Linked DNA regions of Homo sapiens: region 2 is linked to region 1. A link means that fine-mapping ties the variant in region 1 to the expression of a gene that starts in the linked region. Tissue or cell type: lymphoblastoid cells. Region 1 holds a variant in brackets; the other region holds the start of a gene. All regions are shown on one strand. Distances are between the middles of the regions.

Region 1 (2,500 bases):
CTCAAAAATTTCATAATTAAAGGGAGCATAGGGGTCAGATAAAAAGGTTATATTGTGAAATTATTAAAGAATAATTAAAATACAGAAAATATAAAAAATCTTCTGAATCTGAGTCCAAAGGAATTGGAAGGCAGAGATTGGATTAAGGTAAATTGGGGAAGTTGACAAGAGAGCTGACTTATGCTGAGGAAGGGGAGGGCTAGACCAAGGTTGAAGGAGAAAGGAATATTCCAGTCCTGGATTCAGTTGATGACAGCAGGACATAGGCTTCTCTGACCCCCACAAAACTGAAAAAAAAATTATATAAGCAGCTTTTTAAGGCAAGCTGTTGCTCACAGAGGAGTAGAGGGCCCTTTTCTGCAGGTTGGGGGTAACAGGGCATGTGCTGCAGAGACCACAGATTCTCCCTTATGACTCACTTCATGAAACATCTGTAACTAACTTAAGTCCATATTGGGGCTTGTGATTTGAGGGATCCTCTACTTGAAAGAAACTGCCTGTTTTTTTGATGCTTGTAATTCTTTTAAGTAGTGAAAAAAATCTTTTGTTCTAAAATTAGAGATGTGAAGCTTAACATGTGAAGACTTGACTCTGAATACTCATGCCCCTCAGTTTATGATGGGGATACACGCCTATAAACCCATCTAAGTTGAGAATATAAGTTGAAAATGCATTTACTACACCTAACCTACCAATCATCATAGCTTAGCCTCACCTACTTTAAATGTGCTCAAAACACTTCACATTAGCCTACAGTTGGGCAGAATCATCTGACAATATCATGCACTGTAAAGGTTGTCTACCCTTGGGAGCTGCAGCTTGATATCACTGCCCAGCATTGTAAGTGTCCTACTGAGTTCTACTGAATGAGTATCGCTTTCACACTGTTGTAAAGTGGAAAAATTGTAAATTGAACCATCATAAACCAGGGACCATCTGTACTCTAGCATGCTAAGTGTAATGAAGTATAAATTACAGATATAAAAATCCTTTGGTGTTTTTTTGGCAAATGTACTTGAAGACCTAAAGCCTTGTGCCATTTGTAGGAAAGGTAGGAGCAGACCAGTTCAAAGCTTACCAAAATGGTTCACTGTGGAGAAAAAGAGAAACTTCTATTAATACTATTTTGCACACTTATCTACAGTAGGTTGTATTTATCTTTAATAAATGCTTATTGGAATAACAAACAGATACAAGCCATAAATGCAGGCATTTTTATATTCCAAAGCTGCTGCAAGCACGGGCTTTGATTTTTATTAGTTTGTTTTG[T/A]GGGGGAGAGTTTTTAATGTGGCTTATCTATATAAAGAAGTATCTTCACTAGGATACATAAACTTAAAAAAAACTTATTTATTGAGTACTAACAATGAACCACGTGCGAAAGATACTATAAGCTGCTTTTTTTTTTTTTATTTTTATTTTGAGACGGAGTCTCACTCTGTCACCCAGGCTGGAGTGCAGTGGCGTGATCTTGGCTCACTGTGAGCTCTGTCTCCTGGTTCACACCATTCTCCTGCCTCAGCCTCCCGAGTAGCTGGGACTACAGATGCCCGCCACCACGCCCGGCTAATTTTTTTTTTTTTTGTATTTTTAGTAGAGACGGGGTTTCGCTGTGTTAGCCAGGATAGTCTCGATCTCCTGACCTTGTGATCCGCCCGCCTCGGCCTCCCCAAAGTGCTGGGATTGCAGGCGTGAGCCACTGCACCCGGCCAAGCTTACTTCTTTTATGGACCCCTCTAGAAGAATGAGAAAAGTAGAGAGAGAAAAAACCAGTTGTTAAAACAGTGGTGGGAAAACACCATGAGAATAAGAAGAAAAAGATTTTTGCAAGTGGGTGACTTAGGGAAGGCTTTGCTGAGGAATTAGCATTTGGACAGAGTTCTAAAAGAACAAAGGCGGTGCATGTGGTAAGGAGGGCATGCCATGCAAAATAAATAACATGGAAAAGCATGAAAATATGAAGAGCCAGGATGTGGATCCCTTTGGCTGCAGAATAAGTTCTGTATGGGGAAATGATGGAAAACGTGACAGAGAAGGTAAGTAGTAAGTAGGTTGTGAATACCTTGTATGCCATACTCAGTCATTTGGATTTTACAGCAGTGGGTAATTAAAGAATTTTCAGTGGCCCACTTGAAGGCTTAAGAGTTAAAGCAGTGATGGAGAGAGTGGAGACGAGAATCAATTCTTAAGGCATTTAGAAGGTATAGATAGAACTTGAGTGATTGATGGAAAATAAAGAGGACTTGAAGATAACAGGATCCTAGCTTGGGTGACTGAAAAGATGATGTCACCATTCAATATGATAAGGAATACAGAATGAGCAGGTGGAAAAGATAATTCATTTATTTTCACAAGTGTTAAATTTGAGAAAATCTATTGGATATCCTGGTACAGACACTCATTGGGAAGTTACAAACAGGGTTGCAGAGCCTAGAAGACAAGTCAGGTCTAAACACAGATTTGAGAGTCCTCCTCATTGAGGCAGAAAGACAAGTGAGTAAGA
Region 2 (2,500 bases), 74 kb after region 1:
ACTGTAAAGAAAGCTCCAAGTAGCCTTGAATTAGTAGTATCATAAACAATGAGTTTTATCTTAACAGCAGTAGCTTAATAACAGCAAATTCAAAGCAGGCCGAAAACAAAAAAGAGATAGCTTTAGAAAACTCTACATTTTAATTGTATAGTTGCAGGTTGGGCATTTGAGCTCTGAATTTTCCTTGCTGTAATTTGCCCGTTCAGTTTTAAAATGTGCACAAGAACAGGCCACAATATGCAGCTAGCTGAAGTGCTGGAAAACCTGGCATGCCTTTGAACTTCTACAGGAGTTCCTGCCCCTAGTGGGTAAGTTACCTATTGCACTGACTTTATGAAGATATCTCTTCCAGTGCCCTTAGTGTGAGCATCCCCACAAACCTTATGAACCAGTTGAATCCAACCTGAATGCCTCTCCATAAGCCCGGAGCCCACAAATGCATTTTCTCCAGGGCCCTTGGATGGAGGGAATCAGGAAGGCCTCCTCCAAACCCAAGGCTAGGAGAGATGTTCCCTCCGGGGTCCAGGGAGGAGAACAGAAAGGACTGAGAAGAACTAGGAATGCCCTCCCAAACCCAAGGCCAGCAGGAGGGTCTCCTCCGGAGTTCCACAGATGGAGGAGGCCTAAAAGAAGAAATCAAGTCTGCAACCTAAAAGTGGGAGATCTTGGATTTTGATAGCACTTACCCAGATCCTTTCCCAGCATAGTCAGGAACAACTGGACTTTTTCAAAGGGACCTTGGCTGTACCTGGTGTCCTGGGTGACACAGGAAAAGGAATTCAGGGGCTGCTTCAGAATCCCATCTTTGCCAGATACGTTAACTTTAAAAAAAAAATCATAAGATACAAATTTAGAAAAATGGAGACACTATTTCTTAAGGGTGACAGCCTGCCAGGTGGCCATCCTGCAGGCCAGGAAGCACAGCCTCCTCCAGCAGAAGCCCAGAGACAGGCACCTCCAAGGAGGAGGGGTTGGGGTAGGAGTTTTATGCTTTTATGCTGAATGGGTTGGCTTAACACATATTCAACAGGTTACAGGAGGAGCTATGAATATTAATGAAAGTGGTCCTGATGCATGCATATTAAACATGCATCTTACATATGACACATGTTCACCTTGGGGTGGAGACTTAATATTTAAATATTGCAATCAGGCCCTATACATCAAAAGGTCTATTCAGGACATGAAGGCACTCAAGTATGCAATCTCTGTAAACCCGCTAGAACCAGTCATGGTCGGTGGGCTCCTTACCAGGAGAAAATTACCGAAATCACTCTTGTCCAATCAAAGCTGTAGTTATGGCTGGTGGAGTTCAGTTAGTCAGCATCTGGTGGAGCTGCAAGTGTTTTAGTATTGTTTATTTAGAGGCCAGTGCTTATTTAGCTGCTAGAGAAAAGGAAAACTTGTGGCAGTTAGAACATAGTTTATTCTTTTAAGTGTAGGGCTGCATGACTTAACCCTTGTTTGGCATGGCCTTAGGTCCTGTTTGTAATTTGGTATCTTGTTGCCACAAAGAGTGTGTTTGGTCAGTCTTATGACCTCTATTTTGACATTAATGCTGGTTGGTTGTGTCTAAACCATAAAAGGGAGGGGAGTATAATGAGGTGTGTCTGACCTCTTGTCCTGTCATGGCTGGGAACTCAGTTTCTAAGGTTTTTCTGGGGTCCTCTTTGCCAAGAGCGTTTCTATTCAGTTGGTGGAGGGGACTTAGGATTTTATTTTTAGTTTGCAGCCAGGGTCAGTACATTTCAGTCACCCCCGCCCAGCCCTCCTGATCCTCCTGTCATTCCTCACATCCTGTCATTGTCAGAGATTTTACAGATATAGAGCTGAATCATTTCCTGCCATCTCTTTTAACACACAGGCCTCCCAGATCTTTCTAACCCAGGACCTACTTGGAAAGGCATGCTGGGTCTCTTCCACAGACTTTAAGCTCTCCCTACACCAGAATTTAGGTGAGTGCTTTGAGGACATGAAGCTATTCCTCCCACCACCAGTAGCCTTGGGCTGGCCCACGCCAACTGTGGAGCTGGAGCGGGAGGGAGGAGTACAGACATGGAATTTTAATTCTGTAATCCAGGGCTTCAGTTATGTACAACATCCATGCCATTTGATGATTCCACCACTCCTTTTCCATCTCCCAGAAGCCTGCTTTTTAATGCCCGCTTAATATTATCAGAGCCGAGCCTGGAATCAAACTGCCTCTTTCAAAACCTGCCACTATATCCTGGCTTTGTGACCTCAGCCAAGTTGCTTGACTATTCTCAGTCTCAGTTTCTGCACCTGTCAAATAGGGTTTATGTTAACCTAACTTTCAGGGCTGTCAGGATTAAATGAGCATGAACCACATAAAATGTTTGGTGTATAGTAAGTGTACAGTAAATACTTCCATTATCAGTCCCTGCAATTCTATTTTTCTTCCTTCTCTACACAGCCCCTGTCTGGCTTTAAAATGTCCTGCCCTGCTTTTTATGAGTGGATACCCCCAGCCCTATGTGGA

The links. PIP is the estimated chance that this variant, and not a neighbour inherited with it, causes the effect.
Region 2: LINC01963 starts here. The variant in region 1 is fine-mapped to the expression of LINC01963 in lymphoblastoid cells (GEUVADIS, PIP 0.95).

The regions. Positions count from the first base shown.
Region 1 is chr2:216,142,307-216,144,806 of GRCh38, forward strand. All of the region lies in intron 13 of XRCC5 (X-ray repair cross complementing 5), which reads left to right. Among named protein-coding and RNA genes, the nearest start is that of XRCC5, 34 kb to the left of the region's middle. RefSeq lists enhancers at 133-252, 423-532. The variant T/A (reference allele first, on the strand shown) is at 1,270.
Region 2 is chr2:216,215,851-216,218,350 of GRCh38, forward strand. It overlaps LINC01963 (long intergenic non-protein coding RNA 1963), which reads left to right and starts at 1,039. Exons shown (of 1, transcript NR_037701.1): 1 at 1,039-2,500.